2 separate regions of the Homo sapiens genome follow, and region 1 is reported to be linked to region 2. The links are microRNA targets in miRTarBase. Many come from high-throughput screens and were not tested one by one. Region 2 holds a microRNA gene; the other region holds the end of a gene's coding sequence.

The links. Region 2 holds the annotated microRNA hsa-miR-203a-5p (AGUGGUUCUUAACAGUUCAACAGUU, at 7,087-7,111, shown strand). A microRNA usually pairs through its seed, bases 2 to 8, with sites in the 3' UTR of a target mRNA and lowers its output. Matches are read on the target gene's strand: a 7mer-m8 pairs with bases 2 to 8, a 7mer-A1 pairs with bases 2 to 7 and ends in A, and an 8mer does both.
Region 1: the mRNA of HOXD12 is a reported target of hsa-miR-203a-5p. The part of its 3' UTR that is shown has no 7-base or 8-base seed match.

The regions. Positions count from the first base shown.
Region 1 is chr2:176,095,187-176,107,981 of GRCh38, reverse strand. HOXD12 (homeobox D12) reads right to left here and starts at 8,187. Exons shown (of 2, transcript NM_021193.4): 1 at 7,607-8,187; 2 at 5,493-7,460. The coding sequence starts at 8,180. The coding sequence ends at 7,222. It overlaps HOXD13 (homeobox D13), which reads right to left. Exons shown (of 2, transcript NM_000523.4): 2 at 12,038-12,795. HOXD11 (homeobox D11) reads right to left here and starts at 702. Exons shown (of 2, transcript NM_021192.3): 1 at 1-702. The coding sequence starts at 626. RefSeq lists enhancers at 2,846-3,832, 7,600-8,332, 9,874-10,456, 10,457-11,040.
Region 2 is chr14:104,110,345-104,125,738 of GRCh38, forward strand. MIR203A (microRNA 203a) reads left to right here and starts at 7,061; the gene lies at 7,061-7,170. It overlaps ASPG (asparaginase), which reads left to right. Exons shown (of 16, transcript NM_001080464.3): 14 at 1,158-1,257; 15 at 1,576-1,656; 16 at 2,180-5,238. The coding sequence ends at 2,200. It overlaps MIR203B (microRNA 203b), which reads right to left and starts at 7,159; the gene lies at 7,074-7,159.

The DNA.
Region 1 (12,795 bases), not on the chromosome of region 2:
TCGGCTGCGCCCTCGGGCTGTGGCGGCGCGGGTGGCGGCGGGGGCTGCGGCCCGGCGAACGGGGGCCCGGGCGCTGCCTCGTAGAACTGGTCGAAGCCCTGTGGCAAGATGCCATTGCGGCCCACCGCGCTGTAGAAGTTGGAGGCGGCGCCCGCGGGGCCGTGCGGCGGCCCCGGCGCAGCGCACACCGGCTCAGGCGCCTTGAAGAGCACGTCCGGCCGGCGGCCCGCGGGCGGGAGAAGCTCGCGTTGCATGGCCGCCTCCTCGGCCGCCGCGGCCGCCGCAGCCGCCGCCGCCGCCGCCGCGTAGTAGGGAGCGTAGCCCCCCGCGCCGCCGCCGCCCCCGCCGGGGCCGCCCCCGCTGCTGCCGCCCCCCGCGCTGCCGCCGCCGCCGCCGCCGCGGTACGGCCACTTGGCGCGCTCCAGGCCGTAGTCGCGGAAGGCCACTTCGCGCACGGGCTGGACGTGCGGAGCCAGGTTGGAAGAGTAGGGGAAAGTCATCTGGCAGGACGACGGTTGGGAAAGGAACGAAGGCTTGCTAGCGAAGTCAGACGGGGCCACATAGTAGGCGCAGCCCGGCAGGTACATGCTGGCTGCGCTCTGGCCGCACTCGTCAAAGTCGTTCATGACTCCGCGGCGTGCGCGCCAGCGAGCCTCTGGCCGCTCCCCGCGCAGCCAACCTGAGCCATCGATTGCACAAGAGGCTTGGGCCAGGATCAACTAAGCAAAAATCCCCACCGGGCGCTGACGTGCAATTCATCTTGATTGATTCTGGTGGTAATTATGTCACGTGACGCCATGAAGAGAAATGTCCTTATATCTATATCAACGCTCGCCAACACGCCCCGGGACGGCTCCTGGCGCCGAGACGCGCGCGCTGGGGGCGGATCGGCTGCCCTCTGCCGCCAGCTCTCCCCGGGCGCTCCCTGACCAGGCTGCGCCTCAGGCCGGTCACCTGCGCGCCGCTGGCCGCTGTCACCGCTGGGCGCATCTGCCACCGCCCGAACGGGCCGCCCGCCCGCGTCCGCCCTCCCGCGCCGCTTTAAGTACGCGGACCGAGGCCGGCGGGGAGGAGGAAGGAGGGGGAAGAGGGGGAGGAAGGGGGAAGGGAGAGAAGCAGCGAGCAGAGGGGGGGAAGCCCCGGCTCCAGGCTCCCTAGAAGCTAGGAACTAGGTGTGAGGGTGTGAGGTTCCGAACCCCACCCCCCTTACTGCAGCCGCTCCCTCCCCCGCGACTCTGCCACCCTCTGCAGCTCACCCGCCTGGGAGCTTGTTGCTTCTTGTTCACCGGGCGGGAGTAATTTCGCCACTCTCCAGGGCGCAGGGAGCCCTGATTTACATATTTTTCTGCCCAGCGCGTTCAGAGTGGAGTGACTTGGCTCTTTCCGGTTCTGACCCCAAGGGTGCGAGTGCTGGCCTCGGAAAAACCCAGGCCATTCACCACCTAGGCACTCACCCAGGCCGGGGCCTTCGTGCCCACCCGGCTCTCTTCCCTTCTCTCTGGTTTCCCTCTCTGTTCTTGTCTCTCTTTCTCCTTGCCTCGTTTCTCTTCAGTCTTCTCCCTTCTCTCTCCTGTCTTCACTTCTCTCCTTCCTCTTCTTTTCCGCTTTCCTTCTTCCTTCCTCTTGCTTTCCTGTCTCCCTTCTCCTCTCTCTCTCTGTCCTCTCATCCTCTCCCCTCCTTTCCTCTAAGCTGTGTGTCACTGTCTCTGTCTCTCTCCCCGTTGCCTCTCTGCCTTCTCCTTCAGCACTGAAGCCAGGAGGGGGCTCAGCCCGTGGTCCCCAGCCTCCCTAGAATCTGGGGAGTCTGGTGAACAAAAGGATCTGGAGTCCTACTCTTAGGGTGCTTGGCTTCCCGCTGGCTCCCCACAAGAGACAACCCCCACACACTCGCACCTTCGTCCTCCTCACCCCTCTGCTTTCAGGCCTAGCCTGGGTGTCCGCCTTATACCTAGACCCTTCACTGCTTCGGAGCCCCGCCAAGGCCTGCGAATCCACGCCGCGTTTCCCCGAGGCTCTTCTGGTACCCTTGGGTCTGCATGGTCACTTCAGCCCCTCCCCCAAGATAGGTTGTCTCTCTAAGGGCTCTCAGCGGAGCCTGACTCCCTCCTGGAGCCCCTCTGTGTCACCTGGCTCTGAGGCAGACTCTTCGTGGGGCACCCCATCCACTCCCCCAAGGCCTCACTCTCCTCCCAGCCTGCCGCGACCCTCTCCTAGCCCATGGGTCCAGGCAAGGCCTGGGATCCCACCTCCGAGTGAGCAGACGCTTTTCAAAGGTAAACCGTCTCTTCCCAAACCCAAATCCCAGAACCGAGGGCAGGAGGCTGCCCCTTTCCCCAAGATTCCTCCGCCCAGGCAATCCCAGCGCTGGGGCCTGGGCCTCAGTCCTATACCCAGGGCAGGCGGCGCTGGCTGTGATGCTGGTTCCCTCCCTGGCCCGGGCTGCTGCAGTGCCGGTGCTGTGCGCTCTGCCCACCGTGCGGACAGACAGAGAAAAGGCGGGTGGTCTGAGCTAATATCTATTTTCTGGCTGATGTACCCCCCCTTCCTCTTTTTCTCCTCCCTCCCTTTCTCCCTTCCTCTCTCCTTCCTCCGCCCCTTCCCATGTCTTCTTCCCTCCCCCAACACTGCGCAAATAGGTCTGTGGCGACTGGAGGGCATCGAGCCTCCCCCAACTAGAACTGCCCATCTTGTGTGCTCCCTCCCCGCAGCTGGCACCCCCGCCCAGATTCCAGCTGACATTCTTCTCCTCAACCCAGACCCCCAGCACACTTATCTGCCTCCCCATCTCCATCCCAGGCCCAAGCCTCTCCCTTTCGGGCTCGTGGTCGACGCCCCTGGATCTCTCTCCTAAAATGGCTCCCTGGACGCTGCACACTGGCCCTGCGGTAGCTCAGGACCCAGGGCAGCTGCGAGGACTTCAACCCGGGTCTTTATGTGTCTGGGGATTCGCAAAATTCTCGCACCTTCTCTCTACTGGCGGCACGGGGTGGGGTGCAGGCAGCCCGGCGCCCCCAGTATGGAGCCTGCTGACCGCCGAAGAGGGAAAAGGGGAGGACGAACCATTCAAGTTCAACGACATGGCGACGGCAGCTCCGGCGGGAGCAGCGATTTGGCGGGGGAGGGTGAGCCATCTGCAGTGGCGCGCCGGTGCATAGGGGAAGGGGGCGGCCGGCCCCTTTCGGCTCCTTAGCGCGGACCCTTGCCCCCCGACCCACTCCACAACCCAGAGCGCTTTCATTCCAGTCCCAGCCCGCTTGGCTCTTTGGCCCCAGCTCCCTCCTAGTTCCTACCCCCATTCCCCAAACCCAGGGAAAACCGCAGCCTCCGGACCCGCGCGTCCCGCTCGAGAACCTACCGTGAAGACCCCGACTCTGTGGCCTTGTCCTTGCCTGCGCGGCCCCACCCGAAACGCAGGGAGCGCACCAGGCCTTCGGGGCGCAGCCAGCCGCTCCGCGAGAAAGAGCTTTCCGCACAGCGCCAGGACGCGATGCGGTGATTTTGAGTCACCCAAGATAAGACACTAACTTGACCTTAACTTTGTCAGGGCGCCCCTGGTATCTGGAGAACGTGAACAGACACTGTCTGGCAGCTCTCGTAAAAGCTGACTGGGGAAGGGATTCTGAGTCATTTCATTTATTGCCACTACAGTTCTGCAAGAAAGCTTTTCCTCCCTGCCAAACTTTAATTATTTATGCTCTTTTAAGAAACGAAAGAAGAGAAATGCAGGGAAAACACCCAGAGCCAGTTCCTTCCCTACAGAGCCTTCGGAATGGACTTCTTAAGTCAAGCGACTGGAGAACAAAAATATGGGGAGATCACCTTTGTCTAAGGACAGTGGGGCAGTCGCCTTGCCCTCCCCCACTATCACTGAGGGGGGAATGCAGCTGGGAGAGGCGGGTGAAGGGTGAAGGGGCATCCCCCCACATGAATATTTACAACGGTTCCAGATTTCTCTTCCACCCGCCGGCATCCCGGAAGCCTCCTCAGCCCGCCTCCCTGGGGGAGAACCCCCAGGCCTTAAAAGCGTCCCCCCTTCCCCGCCGCCCTCTGAGTTCCCAACTGATTGAATGCCAGATGAAGCTGTTTTTTTCTCGTTTTAAAACTGTTTTCTTGGTCAAGAGGCCCGCTTGGACTGCAGCATTTCAGAGGACACATTTGTCTTTCTGAAGGGAATGTTGAGCACTCAGATTTTAGCGTCCTTTCTCTTCGGCTTTTTTTTTTTTTTTTTTTTTTTAACAAATTTCCTAGTGGTTCCAAATCTCTGCGGGAACCCGGGCTATGGAAGGAGACACCAGAGTCTTTGTATTTGTGTGAAATAGCAAACGGGATAGATTTGGAAAAGACTGCTGAACCAAGAGATACGCTTTTATATTTAGAATAATTTAATTTTCTTTGAGGAGTGATCTCCATGAATATCCCCTCCCCCCACTCATCCCAGGCTAAAGGGAAAGAACACGATGATTTAATGATATATTTTGGAAAGAAACGGCCTCCGTGTTTTCTGTCTTAAGGCCTGGATCTGAGTTCATATGCTTTCCTCCTCCTTTCCCCAGCCTTCCGAGCGCTCAGTGCGGCTTCAGCCTTTGTTCAGTTGTTTTTGAGGAGGCAAACCTCTGAATGCAGACTCAGACTTGGAGATCCTGCTCTGGGTACCATCGCCTCTATGTGCCCAGCCAGGTGGAGAATCCTTTTGAGCCATAGGGCCTTGGCAGCTCTTGCTTCTTTCTCTCCTATTGAATATATATACATATAGGTATATATAGTTGTGTGTGTGTATACAATTAAAGAACAATTAAAAATTTCAATTATACACCAAATTTGCTTCTGGGAAAGGGAGTTGAAATGTTGAATATTCAGTGTTAGTGATTTAGTGGTTTTGCTAATTCTTCCTCTAGCTAAAAGCTAGTTTCCACCTCCACCAGCTAGGAGCTTGTTTTTGCAAGAAAATGAGTAGCAAGCAGGCCCTGAATTTCCTGGACTAAGCTAGAGGTTCAGATGGACTAGGGAGTTTTGAGGCCCCATTTCCCAAGGGAGTCTGCTGGGCGCCTGGTAAACCTGCTGGTATCAAGGATTTAGCAGGACATAGCCGGTTCCAGAGAAGTCAGACCAAAATTCGGTGGAGACAGACGTTTTGTTTTGACATCTGAAGAACCTCAAATCTTTACAGACCCCGAATACCAGCAAGCTTTAAAATTTGAGAATTTAGGCTAAGTGTGGAAGTCCCAGCTTGCAACAAGCTGAGAGTCCCCTTAATGTGTGAGACACACTCAGATCTGCCATGGTCCTTCCCTTTTGGATATTCCAAACATATTTGGTTTGTAGGCTTTTACACACCATTTCCTGACTGCCTCGGAAGCCATTTTCTCATTTAACGAACAGTCAACACTCGCGGTGAAACAATAACCAGAAAAGAAAAACGAATTTGGTGGCCTGAAAAACATTAAGGTGGAATCCAAAACATTTTGAAAAATTGACTTCAGCTCCTTGACAGCTTGGCTCAGACCTGGATATTTATTTTCACTCAAAACATTTGTATATATTGTGTCTGATATATACAAGCTACTGTTTTTGACAAAATCAAAACAAAACATGCATGATAACTATTAGATAGCCTAGAAAATGAAATTAGTTTAAATATCAACTGAAGTCAGTTGGGCTAAGGCTCAGGGCTCTCTGTGAGGGGCCCACTCCAGATTTAGGGCCAGGTCCTGCACTGAAAAGAAATCACTGGACTTTGGGAAGGAATCCTGAATCCTTGAGTTGTTGTGCATCATGCTAGGAATTGCGAAGGAGGAGTGCTACATGTCAGAAGGAGAGGGGAGAAGAGGCAGGGATAGTGGAATGAGCTCGCAGGGGGAGGCTTGGTTCACTGAGATTAAGGCGGGACACTCCAGTACACCCAGAACAACTCCACCTGGCATTTGGGAACCCCTGCCTCCATGAGGCAAGCCTGGCAGGGCCCAGGGCCTTAAAGTCTCCACTGGGACAGGCCAGACATGCCTCAGAAGGGGCACAGTAGCTGGGCCTCTGGTAGAGTTGGCAGATGGTAGAGACGGTGAGAGGAACTTCTGGTCCTCTTTGCTTTGTCAAGAGCAGCTAGCGGGGCAGAGAATCTAAGAGACTTCCTTCCCCTCCCCTTGACTCTTGAGAAGGATTTTTGCCTATCCTTATGGGGTTCCATTAAGGTAATTGAAGAAAGAAAGATGCACCAACACCTTTACTCACCTCAACTGGAAAGCCATATTTACAGTTGGAGTGCAGCACCCCTCCTCCTCTTATTCACTCCCTTCTCCTCCCCTGGATATTTTTCCCTCTCCCTGTGCAACAGAGCTTCAAAGCAGACCAACAGCTCCTTTCACCAGAGCTAGCCTCTGGGGATCCAGTTACAGGGTTCATAGGCCTGGCCTAGGCATGTTTGAGAAGGTGGGAGTAGGGCAATGTTTGCCAGTCTTGTCTGGAGATGGCACTTGTCTGGAGTCCCAGTCTCTCTCATCCCATCTCAGGAAATGAAGGTTCCACATATTCTACCCAGCTGGAAATAGGCCAGCCTATTTCGCATTTCTCATTTCGAGATATCTCCAAGTTTACCCCACTACCCAGCCCCTCCCCTTCCCTCCCTTTTCCTCCCAAAGTCTGAAGATCTAGTGTGGCTTTTGTTCTCTCAAATCAGCCAGGGCAGACAGGAGGGTGGAGGGTGGATGGTGCCCTTTCCTTTCTCCAGAGTGAAGATCCTGGCCTTGCCACAAAGGGCTTCTGCTGCAGAGACCTAATTGTACCCACAGTCCTTTCCATTCCCTCAGGAGGCCTTCCACTCTGAGCCCTAACTAGGCGACTGCTATACGCTGAAGGGGCTGGAGAGAGGGGGAAAGGGAGAACGAATTGGGTGGAAACAGAAAAATCCAGGTACCGGGGAGCAAGAATGAGCGGTGGGTGCAAATGCCCCAGCCAGGAGCAAGGAGAGTTGGCCTCAGTCCCCCAACGTGGAAGCCTTAAGGCCAGCCAGAGTTGCACTGGTACTTCCGCACGTTTCTCACGGGCTTCTCAGGGACTGAGGAAAGCAAGGAGGCCCAACTGGCCTGGTCTGTAAATCTCTTGGTGGCTTCTGGGGCCAGCAGAGAAGGAACCGAAGGAAAAGCCTTAGCCTTAGCCCCAGATCCCCCTCCCCAAACAAGGCCTCTGTCCAAAAGGGCAGATCCAACCCGGCCCTGGCCACGCGCGCGGCTAGTAGAGCGCCAGCGCCTGCTCCCGAAGCACCACGCGCTTCTTCTTCATACGCCTGTTCTGGAACCAGATTTTGACTTGCTGGTCGCTGAGGTTCAGCCTATTGGACAATTCCTTGCGTTTCTGCCTGTTGATGAATTCGTTGACGAGGAATTCGTTCTCCAACTCCGCAATCTGCTGCTTCGTGTAGGGTTTCCGCTTCTTGCGGGCCCTCCCCGGGGCCGCCCCCCACGGCAGGCCTGCAACACAGCCCCAACCCACGTCAACCCAGCCCGTACTCTGTCTATTGCCCGCCCCCAGGCGGTTCACCTCCCCTTACACTCTCCCTTGAACCCCACCTCCCATCCCGGCCCAAACCGGCCCGGGGAGCATGGGCACCGTTTACCGTCGGGCAGTGAAGGTCGCAGGCAAGAGGCAACGCCCGCCGCCTGCACTGTCATGTTCAAGTTGAGCGGGCCCTTGGTGTCGTCCTTGAAGCCAGGGGCGCAGGGAGCCCCCTGGAGCAGGGTCGTGGAGCCCGGCGTGGCACGACCCACACCAGCGTAGTCATACTTGGCCGCTTTGAGAGCAGCCACTGCAGGAGCCAGGCTAGACTCGGGGGCGAAGGACGGCCGGGTACGACCGCGCTCCTCTGGCCCAGCGGCCGCTTCGGGCGCATAGAACTTAGCCTGCTCTTCGGGTCCGTCTTTGGCTGTTGGGGGCTGCAGGCCGAGAGGCCCGGAGCCAGCCAGGTAGGGCTGCGAGAAGCCGCCGAAGGCAGTGGCGCCCGCAGGCTGCGCGGGGGCGCAGGAGGCGGGCGTGGCGGCCCAGGGCAGCGCGCCGCGCGGGTAGGAGATAGGGGGAAGCGCGGCCAACTGGCCGCCATTCGGCCTCAGGTTGGAGAAGTAGAAAGAGTCTGGCGACTGCAGATTCAGAAGCGAGCCCACATAGCCCGCTCTGTAGAGACTGCGCTCACACATCTCCAACAAAGGGCTTCGGCTGCGCTCGCAACAGTATTTAGTTACAACCGGGAATAAGAGGACAGGCTCAGACGATTGGACGAAACTTTGCCTGCAGGTTCTTCAAAGCCGGTCATTTCAGCACCGCCTACATCCCCCCGACCCGTTTTCCCCCCCTTCAGAGTATTATGATAACACCCGCAATGTTCGATGGCGAAGGACGAGGCTGCCAGCAGAGCCAAATCAGGTTGAGCGAAGACTAACTGTCTGCGGGTTTCCAGGCCCGGCTTCAGCAGCTGGGGACATCGGGCAAGAGGGTGACTCTGCCCAAGTGTCCCCTGGGACTCTTCTTGGTCGTGATTGGCTTTGCGATTCGTTTTCCGCAGGCTTTCTGGGCCCGGCTTGCTTCTACCGGCTTTAAGTTGCAGCGGAGGCATTTTCCATTAACCGGCGCCTCTCGACTTATCCGGAGAGGGCGCGGTCCGGCGGCACCAGGAGCTCTGTCCCTTGGCCTGAGCAATGTCACTTTTACCCCAATCACTCCCACAGAGAGGGTTTCTCCAGAGACCTCTGCCTGAGGATCTGGCAGCAAAGACCCATTCGCTACTTGAGCCCTCAGTCCCAGGCCGCAGACACAAAAAGGGCATCACAAACTACCCAATTTTGGGATCCAGGAAGGAGGCCACACTATTTCTGGTTTGTGTCCCCATGGCTAAGAACTCTGATCATAGGGAAATTGCCATACAGGTCCATGGAGAATGTCCGCCAGGGAACCCATCAGCTCGATCCACCAATCGTGGCCAAAGGCTACATTCCTTTTATCTTCAGGAGTCCTCTCCAGGACTACACACTGCAAACCAGAACTCCGAGGTGTCCCCATCCACCAAGTGGAGGGCAAAGCAGGACGAACTCCCCCGACTGGGTGTGGAAAGGCAGAAGAGCCAGAACCACCTGGCCGGGGAACAGCGGGCGTTCGGAGGCAGCTGGCTAGCAGAGTTCCTTGCCTCAGCGCCCCCAGGGGTGCCGGGGATAGGGAGTTCACGGGTCTGACAAACAGGGAAGTGGGAAAGGCAGCAGTTCTTAGCCGGGAGCGGTGTGCTCAGACCCCGTCGCTGGCCCTCTTGCCTAGTCCGGCCAGAGGACTAGGGGTCCTCCCCTCCTGCCTCTGATCCCAAGACCCTGGGAGACCCGGTGACCGGCGCCAGTCTCAGCCTGCAGCAGGACCCTCGGTCTCCGAGCCAAGCTGGAATTGGTTAGATCGCGGGCTCCTGCACTGAGACCACACAGGCGCCGCCGGAGGGCAAGACTGACCGCCGCGCTGCCACTTTATTGTGTGAGTTATGGCGACCAATTGGGTGGCTCTGGGGAACGCAATCGGCCTCTTCCTCCTGCTCTGGTGGGGGGGAGAGAGGGAGTGAGGACGGGGGGGTGGGGATGTCTGGGGCTCCTCTGGCTCTGCCAGAGAGTTTCCTTAGGAGCCCAGGCATAGAGACTCACTCGCTCTCGTCCTCTCTTGGGAGGTGGGGGCAAGCACAAACTGCAATCCCAGTTCCTAGATACTCAAGGGAATACAAGCCTCAGATCCCTAAGAGCTCTTATTTTGGGGAACCCATCCTATTTTCGAGGAGCTGCAGCTTCGTTACTCCCGAAAGCTCCAGCTCCAGGGGTCCCTGCAGTCTCTCCTCACGTTTCAGTGCACGACGATTCCTCGTTATTTCCAAGCCGAGGGGTGTCTCTTTCGGACCTTTAGGCAGCCCTACAACAGCTGTTTGCGCCTCAGGACTAAAGGCATAAAAGAACTCAGTGAAAAACAGGAAAAACAAGAACAACTAGGTTCCCTCCATTGCTCCTTGGACAGTCTTCCCACTTCATCCCCCGGGTTTATGACTTTCGAGGTCTGGCAGGCAAAGTCTTATGCGAGCTGGGGAACCTGATCGAGGGAGGATCGGGGTGGAAAGTAGTGGCGGGAGAGTGGCTTGGCTGGTGATTAAGAGAATGGAACAGGATTTGGCTGAGGAGCGAATAGAGAGCTCTGCCAATGCCGCCCAATGCCCAGGAGATGGCGAGCGCGCTCCATGCCTATCGGGGCGCAGCCGCACGGTCAAGATCAACAGTGAAGGGCGGTGCGGCCTCCCTGGGGTCGCCAGCCCGCTTTCAGACGCAGCCTAGCGCCTCCGAAAGCCGGAGATCTTGGCGGCAAGGCCGCCCCTGACAGCGGAGCCAGAGGGACCCAGGGGGCTGCCAGAGGCGGGGAAGCACTGCAGTCGCCCCTTTGTCTGACCGTGAGTCCCGGCTCCAATGCTTCCTTCGCCTCTTGAATCACGCGACACGGGGACCTCGTTCCCCCACCCGCGGCGCTAAAAACCTGCCGGGTTTCTGAGGAGCTCTCCTGCCGCCTGTCTCCAACCGAAGGAAAGGCCTCTCTCCAAGCCCCCTTAGCCTTCCGGGTTCCCCGAGGGCCTCCCTCCCAGTGCCTGGGCCACTTACCAGTTCCTCTCCTCCCTCTGCAATTTGGAATATAAAGGGAATGCATATGAATAACAAAGCCTTCTTCTGTTATTGATTTAGCCCTCAATCCAAATTCCTCCAGAGAGCGTTTGAGCACAGTTTTAATCTTCAGCAAACCTACCATTTCTCCAAGGCGGGGGGAGGGGGGGAAGTGACATGCAAACTAGAGATGAAAGGAAAGCCTCGAGGCAATCTCCCCTACCCACGATGGGAAACCCGAGAAATAGACAGGGGAAATGGAGTGAAGCTCCGGAGTGTGGGACTCACAAAAAATGGAGGGGAAGTTGGCGATTAGGAGAAAGGAAAAATGTGCCCGTTTCTGATGAAAACACATCTTTTGAGAAAAACCACAAAAACGGTAACGACCCTTCCCGAAGTGTAAGGTGGGGGATGGTGTGGCCCCTTGTGCACGGGTTATTTCTTCTGCAAAGATTGAATCGCGATCATATCTCTCTCTGTTTCTCTGTCTCTGTCCCTCCCCCTCAAAATCGAAGTTAGCTGTCCACGGTCGCCAGTAAGATATGAAAGAAATCAAGCTGGGACAGGGAAAACGAAAGTAGCTCCAAGTCTTAGGTCTCTGCGTTTTCTCTCTCAAAGTCATGAGGGAGCCCTCCCACCAGGAGAGTTTTCACACTAAGTGAGGTTTTAAATATCACTATGTAACTAACTTACACACTAAAACTTTAGCAACCACTGAGTTGATTGTGTGGGGAGCTAACCATGAGGAGTCATCCAGTTCCTCATCGGCCATTTCCCTGAGTGGCAAAAAGGCCTCAAACAGAAAATTCTAGTGCCTAAAAATTGCGTCTGAAAGTTTAGGTTTTATGTTTTCAGTTGTCAACTGCTCTGTGCAGACTGCCCGGAGAAGGCGATATGGGATAAGCTTGAAATGTTTCTTTTTCGATTGCCAAATATGGGTATGTCTTTCTAATTTCAAGACCTTCCTAGTCCAGATGTTTATAATGGTCTTTCCAGGTTGAAAATTTTCAAGTGAGTAAGTTTTTCTATGCACAGGCATACAAATACATATGGATTAAAAAATAAATAGAACTATATAAATAAATTGACAATAGTGAAAGAAAAGTAAAATTTTATTGTCTTTTGAGCTGGCCTGGTATAAAATATCATTTTAAACACTGTAAATGATATCCTCATTTTAAAACATCACTACTTATGTTAAAGTCATGGGCAAAAGGGAGGGAGGGGGGCAAAAGTGGAGAGCATGAAGGTTCCAGAAACCAGAATTAGTGTTGAGTTTCCTTCATCTATAGAGAACATAATTGTGTTCAAGATACCAAGATTTTGTAATAAATAAGAATCGTTTCAAGAAGAAACACAAACTTGAAAAAATAAAACAAATGTATAAGGACTCAGAAGAAACAAAAGAGTTCTGTTTATTGGCATCTCCCTAGGAGTAAAAAGTGATTTTTAAATGTCTGAAGCACTGCCCATGTATCCCAGCTCACAGACATTGCATTTACAAAAATAATCTCTCAATTGTATAAATATGCAGCACTTTAAAAGTAATTATTTATCATCACTTTCAGAAACATCATTATTTTTCTTCTTGGACCTTGGAACTTCACATTTTTCATATTTGTTAGATGCTTTACAGCTCCATGCGAGGCCCCCTTGTTTAGACAGTCAAGTTCTTCATTGGGTTCTGTATGTAAGTTCCCACCCACGGCCACATTGATTCAGCCTCTTTTTGAGGATTGAGGAGATGACCACAATCCCAGACCCATAGATCCAAGGCCAAGAAAAGGAGGTGCATTTATGCCATCCGCGGGTCACTCTACTGATTGCAGCCATTTAAATGTCTGCATTGAGAGCTCAAGAAATGAAGGCATCCACGATCCATGAGGACACATGAGTTTCAAATTAAAGATTATGAAAACACAAACCTACAAAGTGTTAAAAACAAACAATTAAAACAGCAAGTGAAACACCCAAAGTTGGAAAGATTGTCTTCATTTCAATATTGATACAATCCCTATTTAATAAGGTGGCCATTTTTAAAGCCATCACAGTACCTTCAGCCTCCTGTTTTTAGACTTTCTCGGTGACCCCAGAGCACTGCCTGCCTTTCCACTTGCCTCAGGGCAACTGCTGAGAGCTAATGATTCAA
Region 2 (15,394 bases):
ACCCCTGGTCTTGCTTTTGAAGGGACTTCCGGGGTGACTTGGTCAAGATTTGCACTCCAGACAGGCCTTGCTGGCTCCATTGACAGATGGGGAAACTGAGGCAGTAGTCAGGTCCTGTGGGAGCTGGGACCAGAACCCTGGTCCAGGACTCTGCTTGGAAGTGGCCTGGCCAGCCTGAGCTGCTGGCTGGACTTGAGCCCCTCGGCTAGGCCTTCCTAGGGGCCGGTGTGTGTGTGGGGCTTGGCCTCTTGGAGCAGGTCCAGGAGGGGCCAGTGAGGCCATCCAGCAGATTCGCTGCAGAGATTACCCAGTGCCACTGCAGGGCTGCTGCTGTTTCCTGGGTAGGCGCAGAGTCCCTAAGGGCCCTCCAGAGGAGGGGGCAGCCCCTTCCTCACCAGGCCACTTCCCCCAGCCCCTGCACACCATGGGTGGGTGGAGCCTTCCCTGCCGGGTCCCCACCTGGCCTGCTCCTGGCCTCCCCAGGTGGCGAGTGAGTTCTTCCCAGGAGGGTGGCAGGGTGAGGAGGAGCTGGTGAGGGCCTGGCAGGTGCTCCCCACTCCAGGGCAGGTGGGCCCAGACCCCTGTCCCAGCCAGGACCCCCCCATGCAGTCTGCCGGGGTCCAGGGCCAACCGTTATCCTGGGTTGCCTCCTGTGTCCCCCTCTCTGAACCACTGGGCTGCCTCAAACTTTCCTTCCACCTTTGCGGACCCCGCCCCGGGAAGAGCGGTGTGTTGTGTAACACGAAACTGGCGTGGGCTGCTCGGCAGGTGGGCGTGCATATGTGTGTGCAAAGGCGCATGTGCTCATGTGTGTGTGCACATATGCTCGTGTGTGTGTGCATGTGTAGGTGTGTGCTTGTGTGCTCCTGTGTGTGTACATGTATGCTGCTGTGTATGCTGCTGTGTGTGCATGTGTGTTCATGTATGTTTGCGCATGTGTACCCGACTTGAGTCGCAGTCCCACCCACTGGGTGAAACCAGGCTCCAGGCTGCCCGATGGCCCCCAGTGACTCCTGCCCCAGGACCAGGTCGCTGCTGGGTCAGCTGTTTGGGGCTGGCTTTGTAAGAGCGTCCAGGCCACCTGGGGGACAGGCACGTGGGCAGATGGACAGGTGCCCAGCAGGCCCCAACAACTCCTCCTCTGCCCCCACCCCCAGGCTGGCATACAGGGCCGACCTCGAAGGCCTGCAGGTGTGGTGGCAGGCAGGGGCTGACCTGGGGCAGCCGGGCTATGACGGGCACAGCGCCCTGCACGTCGTGAGTGCCCCCACCCCCTGCACCCTCTCCAAAGGCTGCCACCTCCAGGAAGGACACCTGGACAATTCACCAGCTCACTGCTCTGCCCCTCCCCGCTCTGCCCCTCCCCCAAATGCCTGGCCCTCCCCATGCAGGACCCGCACAGACTGGGTCCCCTTCCCGGGGCTCTGAGTGGTGGGGGTGACGAGAGTGGAGGAGCTGCTGGGGCCCTGTGTGTGTGGGCTGGGGACAGGGGAGGGCATCCTGGGGATGGGGATCCTTGGGCCAGGCTGCTAGTCAGTGGCCCCAAGGCAGCCCCTCCCCACTGCTTCCCCATAGGCAGAGGCAGCCGGGAACCTGGCAGTGGTGGCCTTTCTACAGAGCCTGGAGGGTGCGGTTGGTGCCCAGGCCCCATGCCCAGTAAGTCCCCACCCCAGGCGGGGCTGACACCCCCCAGTGAGCTTCTAGTGCAGGGCTGGATCCTGGCTCGGGGGGGCGTAATCAAGGGGAACAGAACCGGAGGAGGCTGAGATGGGTCCCAGCCAGTTTAGGGTCTGCAGAGCCCCTCCTGGGGATGTCCAGGGTGGAACACAGTTTAGAGGTGAGGAGAAGGAGAAAGGAGCAGTCAGGGAGGGCTTCCTGAAGGAACTGACCAGACTTGAGCACTGAGGGCCCAGCCAGGGCTCAGCATCCCCTTACCCACCCCTGCCCCTGCGCCCTGCCCCACCGGGACCCCCTAGGCTGGGTGCTTCCGCTTGTCTCCCAGGCCAGTTCCCAGCTGACACCCCCATTCCCACTTGGTTGTGTGGCCCTCCCATAGTCTCAAGCTGGGTTTGCTCAGGCTCTTGGGCTGTGCCGTACAGACGGGGTGCCTGGGCTTGTCTCTCTGCCCTGCCTTCGCACTCTACCTGGGTGTCCTTCTCAGGAGCCCTCATGTTTTCAGGAAGTGCTGCCTGGTGTCTAACCTGAAGGCGTCCTGCTGCAGTATAAGCCATTCCTTCCTCCCATGACCTGCTGGAGGGGTCTCAGGCATGACCCCACTGCTGGGGCTGCTTCCCAGCCTGCTCTCATGTAAAGCCTGAAGGCCTTTGTTGGGCAGGACGGCAATAAAGTCTCTGACATCCCCTCACCAGGTCTGTACAGCCTGGCTCTGAGAGGCTCTGTCTGGGTCCGGGACTGTGGATGTGTGTGGGGAGTCAGGCCCAGGCTCTGTGGGGTCTCTGCGGGGGTCACTTGGCCCATCCTTCCGGGGGCAGCTGTGCGTGTGAGCTGGGCAGGGTGGGGTGCATGGACGTGACTTGGCCAAGTGGTCCTTTCCCAGCTGCCACTCCCCCTTCCTGCCACCCTGCCTTTGCCCAGGCTGGTCCCTCCTCCAGACACCCTCTGCCCATCTCCTTACCTCCTGCGCCTTCATTCTGGAGCTTGAAGTCCCCTCCCCCAGGCAGCCCTCCAACCCCTGGATGAGCATGCTGCCCCTGCTTAACTCTTTAGTCCTCACAGTCCCGTCCCAGTTGCTGTCTGGTTTTCTGTCACCCCAGTATCGCTGCACCCGGCCCCCCTCTCAGGCCAGGGCCACACCAGGGCTCCATAGGGCTGCGGAAGCCTGTGAGTGTCAAGGGGGCTTCACACTCTGGTGGTGAGCCCCTGGGGACCATTCCAGCCCCTGCTCTGCCTGAAGCTCCTGATGCAGCCTCCACCGTGAGCCAGGCCACCCTGTAAGGGAAGAGGTGAGCTGTGCCTGCCTGGTTGCACAGCCTGGGCAGGTGGGCGGGTGGGGCGGGCCCTGCTGCTGCCCGGTGGGGGTGGTGCTCCAAGGCCAAGGGCAGCCTCGTGCCTTCTTTCAGCTGGGGCTGAAATCGGGGGTGTGGACCCCTGGCCCCCATCATGTGTGCATGCACTGGCCTGGGATGGCCAGGGACTCCCTGCTGCTGCCCCCAGCCCCTGACCCCTTCTTGCTGGGTGTGAGGAGCATGGGGGCTGCCTCCCTCCAGGCCTCTCTACCTGCCCAGGTGACGGTTCCTTTTGTCCCTCTGTTTGGCTGGCCTCTGGACTGGAGCCCCAGGAGGGCAAAAGCATGACCCCAGAGCTGGCCCTTGGCACCTGGGCATACCCCAGGCTCCTCAGCCTGGTTCCCAAGCCTGGCTGGTACTGCCGCTGGCATCCTTGCTGTCCTCACCCCGACACAGGTGTGCCTGGGCCTTGCACAACAAGGTGACGCCATGCGAGCGTGGCAGGGCCGGGGAAGCCTTTGCTCCTCACCCTGGTGAGGCCCATGAGGGGCTGCAGGTGGAGGGAGGGTGGCACCGGGCCCCAGAGCCAGGAGCCCCTGCTGTCCCCGGATGGCCGAGACCCTTGGAGGGCCTTGGGAGAGGCGGTGGGGCATCTGGACAAATGCCTGGTGCAGGTGAGAAGGGGTGGGACTACCTCCGGCATCCCTGGGCTGAGCCCACCTGGTCTCCCCGGTTGCTCCTGCACACGGCAGTGCCCACCTGCTTCCCTCAGCTCCTGAGGGGCTGGGCAGAGCCTGTTGCTCACGCCACCCCACTCAGTGCTGCTCCGGGTTGTGAAAGCTGCAGGTGGCTCACGTTAGCCCACATGGCAGCACCCTCCCAGAGCAGGTGCCAACCTGCCAGTGTAGACACACCGACTGATGCCGGGGGTGAGTGTCCTGTAGTGTAGAAACGCCCACTCATCCTGCTTGTCCCGCAGAGAGCATTTGTCAAGCTGGCCTTTCTCCAACTGGGTCACTGATGGAGTTCGGCAGAGACGGCTTGGGGGCCACGGGCTGGGCAGATGGGGAGAGCTCCTCACAAGGCTGGGCAGCCAGACCCCCATTGTCAGTCCCCTCCAAACCCTCGTGGGATGTAGGGCCCTACCACAGGGAGCCCCGGGACTGGGCCAGTGTCTCAGGAGGCTGTGAAGAGTCATAGGCTTGAGTCTGGGAGCTTTCTCGGGGGCCGTTTTGTGCCCCTTGGGGAGAGGCCAGAGGGGCCCTGGGTAAGGGGACTCCTCTAGAATCACCCAGAAGTGGCAGGAGGTGCAGGGCCACTGCTCGGGGCTCCCTGGGCTCTGAGCTGGGCAGTGACCTGGCCCCAAGGCCTCTGGCTCTCTGGCGTGCAGTGGGAACAGCCGGGACAGACAGGCTTGGAGCGTTCGTGTCCTGCGCCGCGTTGGTGTGTTTCGTCCCCACTGTGCCTGTAGGAGGGCACCGGGTCCCCGTCTATCCTACTTCATGGCTGAGGAAGCTAAGGCACAGAGTGGCCCCGTCCTGCGCCCAGGGCTCTGCGTTGGCACAGGGCAGAGCTGGGCTGTGAATCAGGGCCGCCTTGTCTCTTGCTGTGGTGTGAGGCTGTGGGAGACTCAGGAATGAGGCACAGCCAGGTGCCCAGTGCCCGTGGGACCCGCCTCCCCACAGTGGGGTGGCGCCGCTCACACCTGGTAATTTCACGCTGGGGGAGGCCTTGGTTCCTATAGCCCATCTCGAATCACCTGGATCCCAGGGCTATCTCTGGGGAACATCTCCTCTCCATCACGACTACTGTCTTTTTCACCAGCATTTTCTATCCTAAAATCAGACTCCTCAGCTGAGGGCCCTCCAGGACCGCCCTTCCCCAGCTGGAGGTAACCAGATTTCTCGTGTATGCTAGGAAGTTCCCCTTCTGGTCACACCTCAATATTTCCTGCTGCTGGTGGGAACTGCAGGTGCTTGTACTTGTCACCTTCTCCCCGTCCTCTCTCGTCAGTTCCCTTGGATGCTGGACACGGGAGCCACCTGGGCGAGGGGAGCCCATCCAAGTGGCTGTGCGTCGGGAAGAGTCTGCCCAGGACTGGGCTAGACCAGAACTTAGAATTAAGGAGTGGTGGCCAGGCTTGGTGGCTCACACCTGCAATCCCAGCACTTTGGGAGGCCGAGGCGGGTGGATAGCTTGAGCCTAGGAGTTTGAGAACAGCCAACATGGCGAAACTCTGTCTCTTAAAAAATAAATAAAAACATTAGCCAGGTGTGGTGGTTTGTGTCTGTGGTCCCAGCTACTTGGGAGGCTGAGGTGGGAGAATCGCTTGAACTGGGAAGATGGAGGTTGCAGCGAGCCAAGATCGCACCACTGCACTCCAGCCTGGGCAACACAGCAAGACTAGGTCTCAAAAAAAAAGAAAAAAAAAAAGAAAAGAAGAGAGGTGGGTTCTTCTTGCCCATGCAGTTGTGTTGGGGGAGGAGCTCCCAAGCTCCTGTTCTTGATCTCAAGCTCCCCTATGCCCACTTCCATCCCCACCCCCATGCCGCAGCCCCTCGGACTCCACACCCAGGCACTGAGACCCACAGATGCAGCGATGGCAAGGCCTGTCATCCCTTCTCTACCACCAAGAGCTGTGCAATCCCCAGAAGTCACTGTCCCTCCCTGAGCCTCAGTTTCCCCAACTGCAAAATGAAAATAACAAAACCTTTCTGATTCCCTTTCCAGGGTGGCTGCGGTGGTTGAGCCACACGCGGCCCATGTGGAAATGTCTGGGGGGTCCCTCAGATCTGGTGGCTGTGTTCTGGTCTGGGGCTCACCTTGGCTCCTGAGCACTTGGCTCCTGGCTGGCTGGGCGGGTGGTGGGATGGCGTGTCACCGCCCTGCACTGGAATGAATGGTCACCACCCTGCTGCCCAACCCCATACAGACACACTAATGGCTCCAGACTTGGGGCAAGTGCTGAAGGGGGCTCTAGGGTATTTCCTAGAGCCTGAGCCCTCCCCTCAGCTGCCATGTTCTGCTGAAGCAGAGTCCCTGGGAGGCGCCACTGGTCAGGCCTGGACACCTCCAGGTGACTAAGTGGGTAGGACCGGCAGGGCCAGCTGCGCCAGGACGTTCGGGGCTGGGCTGTGAGTGGGGGGAGCGAGGCTCAGGCCCTTGCTGCGTGAGGGGGTAGGGCGTCCCTCCCCCCGCGTGGGAAATGAGGAGGCAGGTACGGGGCTACCCCTGTGGGCTGCGGGGTGGGGGTTCAGGGTCTGAGAAGCAGAAACCTCCCTCCCTCCAGTTTCACTTTCTCTTTACCCCTCCCCTTCCCCCTCCCACGAAGTTCCCTTTGAAGTGAGAGGGGCTGGGGTGGGTGTGTCCAGCCCAGCCCCCACACCCACCGGAGAGCTAGCGCGGCCCTGGGCTCCTGTCGGGCGCTGGTCCTCACCTGTTCCGGCCACCCTGGGCCTCGACCCGGCCAAGGTGGAGCCCCGGGCCCTCCGTGCGCCCGAGCACCCCCGGCCCAGACGAGACGGTTCGGGCGTGGCCCGGCGGGGACCCAGAACCCGGGAGGCCAGGTGCGCCCAGGCCAGGCGCTGGAGGCTGGGGCGCCGGATGGGGCGGGGCGGCCGCTGAGTCAGGGCCACCCCCGCGCGGGCGCGCGGAGCAGGTCCCCGGGCCGTGGAGGATCAGTCGCGGGACCTATGGGCCCGGGAGCCGCCCCGCCCGGAAAAACCGGTCGGGCCAGCGCGGCGCGGGCACATTCCGGCGCCGGGAAGGGCGGCTGCGCCGCATAAAAGGCGCCGCCGCGCTGGCCACCGCCGCTCGGAGCTCAGCCGCCCTGCCACGCGGGGCCCGCGGGACGAGGGGACGCCGGGGCCAGCGAGGACGCGGCGGGGCTGGGCTTGGCGGCTGGGATCCCCCAGCGCCAGGCGAGGGCGTCTAAGGCGTCCGGTACGGCGTCGGGGCCGGGTGGCTGCAGCAGGGCAGGGGGTGCGCGACCAGCGGGGATCTGGGCGCAGGGGCCGGTCCCCGGGATCCGCAGGCGACGCGGGCGGTCCCAAGGGCGTCGGGGGCTCCTCTCTCCGCAGCTCGGCGAACCGACGGTGTTGGGGACTCGCGCGCTGGGTCCAGTGGTTCTTAACAGTTCAACAGTTCTGTAGCGCAATTGTGAAATGTTTAGGACCACTAGACCCGGCGGGCGCGGCGACAGCGACGGAGCGTCCCACGCGCGGCCTGGAGTCAGAGTCACAGTCAGGGGTGCGCCGGCGACCAATCCAGGGGAGCCCACGGACCGGCTCCGCGCTCCAGGTCGGCCGCCCCATGCGCCGCGCCCCGCAGTCCCCAGGGCCTGGCTGGCTCCACCTGCTGCCAGGGAAGACCCTCGGCCGGAGAGCCAAGTGCTGCTGGGAGGTGGCCGGGCGTGGCCGGGCTGTGCTGTGGGAACCGCTGGGTGGGGGCGCGCTGGGTTGCCCACGCTCCTGGCGCGCTGCCGGCCTGGAGACGCCGCCGCCGCCCTCTTGCACCCCGAGGGCCCGCACCTCGAAACTCCGTGGAATTCCCAGCGAGGAACTGGCGGTGGGCCCGTAGGGTTGAGGAGCGCTCCTTGCCCTGGGCTTCCTGGGAGCTGCCCATCAGGCTGCCGGCAGCCGCACCCTGCTGGGCGGCCGATGGTTCCCGCTGCCGGCTCCCCGGAGCGTCTCCACTCACTGAGGCCTTAGGGAGCGCTGCGCGGCTCCTACGAGTGCGCGCTAAACTCGTGAAGGACCTCGAGGCACAGGAACTGGGGGTGGGGAGGAAGTTTGCAGACTACACCCAGGTAGAGGAGAAGCGGCGCCCATGATGACAGGTGCCTTCGCCGGAGCCTCCCTGGAACCTCGTGGTAGCTAGCGCCCACAGGAGAGGTGTGCGCGTCAATCTGCGTGTGAAGCCCCGGGCGGCCCTGGGAGGGACTCAGCAAAGGGTCGAATCTGTCCCCACCTCCAGCCAGGGGCCGGGGTCTTCTGCCTGGTGCTGCCTGGCCTGCTGTGTCCTCTGGGGTGGAGGGTCCCCCTCCAGTCCCCACCTCCTCACCCAGTGTTTAGAGAGCTGCGGGGAGTCCTGGGAGATGGGTCAGACAGGCCTGGGTTTGAGGCCTGCTAGGGTGGCCTTGGGCCAGTCACCTGCCCTCTCTGAGCCCGACCTGCACACATAGGGGGTTGATGTGAGGAGACAGGAGGTGACTGTGGAGGGCTGTTCCAGAAGAGGGCCAGCAGCAGGACAGCAAGGTCCCCTGGCCACCCAGGTGGGGGGAGTGGAGTTCCCGGGAGAGCATCCACCACTGGCCAGTGCCTCCTCTGTTGCTCAGCAAATGCCATTGTGGCCACCTCTCAGGATCTGGCTTCAGAGCTTGGGGCCGTGGGAGCGCCCAGTGGGTCTGTGGCATCGGAGGGGTTGGAGTGTCTTCCCCAGCTGCTGCCTGCTGACCACCGCAGCCCCCTGTAGCCATTTCATTTTACAAGCACGTTCCCCCGTGCCCTCTGCATGGGCCCTCAGCCCTCAGCAGCCCCGTGAGAGGGGCTGAGGCTCAGGTGGGAGATGGCGGCTGTGTCCCTGTTCTGCGGCTTGGAGGCATTCTGTCCGGTGTGCGTCTGTACAATTTAGACTGATGACAATAAACATGTTCCAAAGCATCGCTGTGTCCCTGGGGTGCTTGTCCTTTTCCCCCAGGCCTCAGCGTGGTTTCTCCCTTGAAAGCAAGCCAGCCTTTTCCTTCTAATCTCAGAGAAGCAGAAATGAGGATGGTTGGTGGAGGGGCAGTGGCCTGGTCCTTACCCAAGACCCTCCCTCAACTCTGCCTCTGGCACTTTGGTCTCCAGGGAAGCCCCCAGCCTCTGCCACCAGCTTTCTCGTTGCAGTGACCTCCCCTGGGCCACTGGGCCAGACCCCCTCCCTCGGGTTTGAGCTGCACTGCCTCAAGGAGCCAGGCTGGGGAAAGGGCTTGGCTCCCAGGGGCCCCACTTTCAGGGGCTCCAGCCTGCTCCCACTCCCCCCACTCACCACAACACTGCTCCCTTGGCTGGCTCCCACTCATTCCCGCTGGAGCCTGTAGGCTGGCCCTGGGGACCTGGCCAGGAGAATGGGCAAGGTGGGAGGGTTGAGGGATTGAAGAGACAGAGGCACCTTCCTCCACCCTCCCTGCCTCTGGCACAGGGGACCGAGAGTCTGTCGTGCATTCAAACCCCAGCTCTATGCCTACAAGCAAGTGACCTTGGCAAGTCCCTTATCCCCTCGGAGGACCTGTTTCTTCCTTCTGTAGGATGACGTGGAGCTCGCTGGAGGTTCCCCTGACATGATGCAGCACACTTCCTGAGTGCTCAGCAGGGCAGAGCTCAAGCTGTCACTGGAGCTGATGTGGTGGGAGGGCCAGTGGGGGATCCTTGAAGAGGCCGAATTTCAGCCAGGGCCTCGGAGGACCAATGGAAGGCCTCAGGTGGCAATGAGGTGTGGTCTTACAACAGGCCCCTACTTGGTCCCTGGGGACACCAGGAGGACAGGCCCCTACTTTGCTGAGACTAGACCTGTGCTTCCTGGCACCCCAGCCCCTCCACTCCGGCCTCTCCAGCCTCTGCCCCTGACCCAGGTGGAGGATGGCTCCTCGGGGTCCATTCCTTCAGCCATGGAATTCCTGAAGGGAAGCTGGGCACGTGGGGCTCCTGGGCTGCTGGTGGAGACACATGCCACCTCTACACAGGGGAGTGTGAACAGAGGCAGATGCAACTTCTGGGTGGAACTGGGGCACTGTGGTGCTGAGACGTGCCGACTGTGCTGCTGGAGGGCCACGCCGGGGCAGGGCAAAGCATCCCTGCATGAGGCCGACCCACCTGTCCAGGTGTGCCTGCGTGTTTCCTGATTTGGCACCGAAACGTTCTTGGAATCTTCTGAGTCTGGGGCAAACTGGGACTGCTGATCACCCTACGTGGGACCAGCTCATGTACACGCTGCCCTACCCACTTGGACAGCTGAACAGCTTGTCTTTTCCACAAGAGAAAGGAACCTTCTGCCTTTTAAAGCCAGTGTTATTTTGGTCTCTGTTAAAGTAGCTAAACCAGTATGTGAAGGCAGGGGTTCTGACTCACTGCAGAGGCCCAGGCTCAGTGAGTAGGATGGGTGGCAGGGATCTGGGTCTTCACCAAGTTCCCAGGCGAGCCTGATAAATGCCCAAGGCTGACAGCAGCTGTCTTAGGCGAGAGACCTCAGGAAGAGAGACAGGCTGGGGGAAGGGGAGACAGGTCCTGAATCTGCAGCTATGGGTGGTGCCTGGCCTCTACTCCCTGGGAGCAGGAGCCTAGAGTAGAATTTGCATCTTAGCCTCTCTGTCCTTCCCCAGAGGAGTCCATAGCGCCCGCTGAACAGGTAACCTGCCAGGCCAGGGTCTGGGGGTGCCCACTCGAGGCTCATGGAATCTAATTGTATATGCAGGTCTCAGGCCATTTGTGCTGCTGTAACAAAACCTCTGAGATGGATAATTTATAAGGAACCACGAGAAATTTATTTCTTCGGATCTGGAGGCTGGAAGTCTAAGATCAAGGTGCTGGCAGGTTCAATAGCTTGTGAGGTCTCAGTCTCTGCTTCCAAGTTGGTGCCTTGCGTGGGTGCTCTGGAGGGGAGGGACACCATGTCCTCACACGACAGAAGGGATGAACAGCAGAAAGGATGGGAAGGGCAAACTCGCCCCCTCATGCCCTTTTATAAGGCACAAATCCTACCCATGAGGGTGGAGCACTCATGGCCTCCTCAGCTGCTGAAGGCATCAGCTCTTCATCCTGTTGCACTGGGGATGAAGTTTCAACATGAATTTTGGAGGGTCACAAGCACTCAAGCCATGGCAACATATTTGCAGTTGAGAATCATCAGAGGGAGGACAGATGATGGCTCCTTCCTGGGTGACTAGATAAGCCCCATGGGACAGCACATCTGTCACAGGGCTGTGGGGTCACTGTGACTGGCTTTCTGAGTATCTTTCCGTGGTTCTGAGGCTGCCCGGGGAGCAAAGTTGTGCTGGGAGGGCACACATACAAGCTGAGTTGCCTTGAGCCCGCCAGTCTTTGTCGGGGGTGTCACTATTTTTCTTGGGTTTATTGAAATGCCACTGACCTACAGTAAAGTGCACAGGTTTACAGTGTACAATTTGATGACTCTTGACATATATATGCACATCTGTGAAACCATGACCACAGTCAAGATGATAAACCGTTGACCAAACACAGCTACCTGCAGGGTTCATCCAGCCCTTGGTGATCCCTCTTTACTTCCCCAACTCCTCCCACCCCTGGAGTTTTCTTTGTTGGAAAGAACTCCAAATTCAACTTATTTCCTAGATATAGGAACATTCAGCATATCTATTTCTTCTTGAGTGAGTTTTAGTGATTGTTTCTTTTACAGGATTTATTTAATCTAATGTTGAATTTATTGGTATAAAGTTATGCATACTATTCCATTATTATCTTTGAATATCTGTAGACTGTGGTGATGAACCATTTCTCATTCTTAATATTAATTATGTGTTTTCTCTTTTTTTCTTGATCCATCTGGATAGAGGTTTATAATTTTTATCAATTTTGGGAAAGAACCAGCTTTTGGTTTTATTGATTTTCTCTATTGTTTTTCTGTTTTCTATCTCAATGATTTCCACTCTGATCTTTATTATTTCCTTTCTTCTCCTGACTTTGACTTTTATTTGCTCCCTTTTTCTAGTTTCTTTTTTAAATGTTTTATTTATTTGACATATAAAATTGTATATATTTATCATGTACAACATGTTGTTTTGATATACATATAATTATGGAATGCCTAAATCAAGCTAATCAATATATGCATTACTTTACCTACTTATCTTTTTTTGTGGTGAGAACACTTTCTTAGCAATTTTCAAAAGTACAATACATTGTTATTAACTATAGTTACCATGTTATACAATAGATCTCTAGAACCTATTCCTCCTAACTGAAATTTTGAATCATTTGACCAACACCTCCTCAACTTCTTTTTCTTAAGGTAGAAGCTGAGGTCACTGATGACCTTTCATCTTTTCTAATGTAGTCATTTTATTGCTATAATTTCCGTCTAAGCACTGCTTTAGCTCCATTATACAAATGTAGATGTAGTGTGCTTTCAGGTTCATTCACTTTAAGATACTTGCTAATTCCCGTTTTGAATTTTTCTTTGACATTTGGATTATTTAGAATTCCCTTCCCTTACCTTCTCTTCCCTCCCCTCCCCTCCCTCCTTCTTTCTTTCTCTTTCTTTCTTTCTTTCTTTCTTTCTTTCTTTCTTTCTTTCTTTCTTTCTTTCTTTCTCTCTCTCCCTCTCTCTCTTTCTTTCTTTCCTTCTTTCTTTCTTTCCTTCCTTCTTTCTTTCTTCTTTTCTTTCTTTTTCTTTTCTTTTCTTTCTTTTTTTGACGAGTCTGAGTCTGTTTCCCACATTGGAGTGCAGTGGCACGATCTCCACTCACCACAACTTCTACCTGCCAGGCTCAAGCAATCCTTCCACCTCAGCCCCTGAAGTAGCTGGGACTACAGGTGTGTGCCACCATGCCTGGCTAATTTTTGTAGTTTTTGTAGACATGGGGTTTTGTCATGTTACCCAGGCTGGTCTCAAACTCCTGGGCTCAGGTGATACACCAGCCTTGGCCTCCCAAAGTGCTGGGATTATAGGCATGAGCTGCCACACCTGGCCTGGGAGTGTATAATTTTTAGTTTCAAAATATTTGGGAATTTTCATAGTCTGTTTCTGATATTGATTTCTAATTTAATTCCATCATAGTCAGAAACCATACTCTGTATTACTTGAGTCCTATTAAGTTTATTGGACTTGTTTTATGGCCCATAATATGTTTTATTTTGGTAAATGTACTGAAAAATAATGTGTATTTTGCTGTCATTGGGGGCACTGTTCTACAAATGTCAACTAGGTTAAGTTGGTTGATAGTGTTGTTCAAGCCCACTGTATCCTTACAATTTTGTGTCTAGCTGTTTTATCAATTACTGAGAGAGGACTGTTAAAGTCTCCAACTATAACTATGGATTTGCCATTTCTCCTTTCAGTTCTATTCATTTTTGCTTCATGTGTTTCTGGACCTCTGTTATATGGTGAATAAACATTGATAATTCTTATGTCCTCTTCTTGAAATAAGCCTTTTACCATTATGAAATTGCTTTCTTTTTTTTTTTTTTTTTTTTTTCTGAGGCAGAGTCTCTCTCTGTTGCCCAGGCTGGAGTGCAGTGGCACGATCTCAGCTCACTGCAACCTCTGCCTCCCGGGTTCATGCCATTTTCCGGCCTCAGCCTCCCGAGTAGCTGGGACTATAGGTGCCCGCCACCACGCCCAGCTAATTTTTTTGTATTTTTAGTAGAGATGGGGTTTCACCATGTTAGCCAGGATGGTCTTGATCTCCTGACCTCATGATCTGCCTGCCTCAGCCTCCCAAAGTGCTGGGATTACAGGCATGAGCCACTGTGCCTGGCCTGAAATTGCTTTCTTTATCCTTGATTATATTCTTTGCTCTGAAATTTCTTTTCTTTTACTACATTAAAGTTGTTCCAGTGTCTTCTGGCTTGCATTATTTCTGATGAGAACAATGCTGTCATTCTTATCTTTGTTCATTTGCATTTAATATGCCTTTTTGTTATTAACATAGGCATTCCAGCTTTCTTTCGATTAGTGTTAATGTGTTTCTTTTTGTATCCTTTTACATTTAACCTATTTCTCTTTTTACATTTAAGCATTTTTTTTGTAGGTAGCACATAGTTGGATCTTATTTTTTTATTTGGTCAGACAATCTCTGTCTTTTAATTGAGATATTTAGACCATTTACATTTACTGTGATTATTTACACATTTGAATTTTGATCTGTCATCTTGCTCTTTGTTTTCTTTCTGTCCTATTCATTTTTTTGTTCTCCATTTATTTATTTTTTTGCCTTCTTTTGGATTGATGGACTATTTTATGATTCAAATTTATACTCTTTGTTGTCTTATTAGCTACAACTCTTTGATATGTTTTTTCATTGTTTGCTTTAGGACTTACATATACATCTTTAACTTATCATATTCCATTTTAAAATAATATTAATTTATGTACAGTGTAAAAAATTATGTATAGTATTAGAATCTTGCAGCCTTATAGATACATAACAGTACACTTCCATTTCTCCCTCCCAGGCTTTGTGCTATTGTTATTCTTCATTTTATTTCTATATATGTTCTAAGCCCTACAATATAGTGAATTTTTTCTTTAGTCAGTTATCTCTTAAAGAGATGTAAAAATGAGAGAAAAAAGATTTTATTTTATTTTATTTAGTTTTTGAGATGAAGTCTCACAATTTCAGGCAGGCTGGAGTACAGCGGTGTGATCTTGGCTCACCGAAACCTCCACCTCCCGGGTTCAAGCGATTCTCCTGCCTCAGCTTCCTAAGTAGCTAAGACTACAGTTGCGCACAACCATGCCCAGCTAATTCTTGTATTTTTAGTAGTGATGGGGTTTTGCTATGTTGGCCAGGCTGGTCTTGAACTCCTGACCTCAGGTGATCCACCCGCCTCGGCCTCCCAAAGTGCTGAGATTACAGGTGTGAGCCCCACGCCTGGACAAAATATTTTATTTTTGCCAGCATGTTTACCATTTCTGGCGCTCCTTTGTGTTGATCCAGATTTCCATTTGGTATAATTTGCTTTATGCCTGTAAGACTTCTTTAACATTTCTGGTAGTGCAGGTCTGCTGTTGATAAATTATTCACCTTTTCAACGTCTGAAAAAGTCTTAATTTTGCCTGTGGTTTTGAAACATATTTTCATTGGCCATGGAATTCTAGATCAAAAGTGTCTTTTTCTTTCACTGCATTAAACTTGTTCCAGTGTCTTCTGGCTTGCATTATTTCTGATGAGAACAATGCTGTCATTCTTATCTTTGTTCGTTGCATTCAATATGCCTCTCCTCTACCACGTAGTTAAGATTTTATCACTTGTTTTCAGAAATCTCATTATGTGCCTTGATGTTTTCTTCATGTTTCTTGTGCTTGAGGTTCATTGAGATTCTTGGATGTGTGAGTTTACGGTTTTCACCAAATTCTGAAAGTTTTCAGCCATTATTTCTTTAAATATTGTGCACAAACCCCTATTCCTTTTCTGGCATTTTCATTACATATATATCAGGCCACTTAAAGTTGTCCCAAAGATCACTGTAGCTCTGTTCATTTTTAAAAATAGTTTTTTTGGGTTTTCTTGTTTCATTTTGAATAGTTCCTATTGCTATCCAAATAACTACTTCTTCTGCAGTGTCTAATTTGCTATTAATTCTATCCAGTGTAATTTTCATCCTGGACATTATATTCTCCATCTGTGGAAGTTTAATTAGGTCTGTTTTATAACTTCTCAATGTTTCCATATCCTCTTGAACATATTAAAA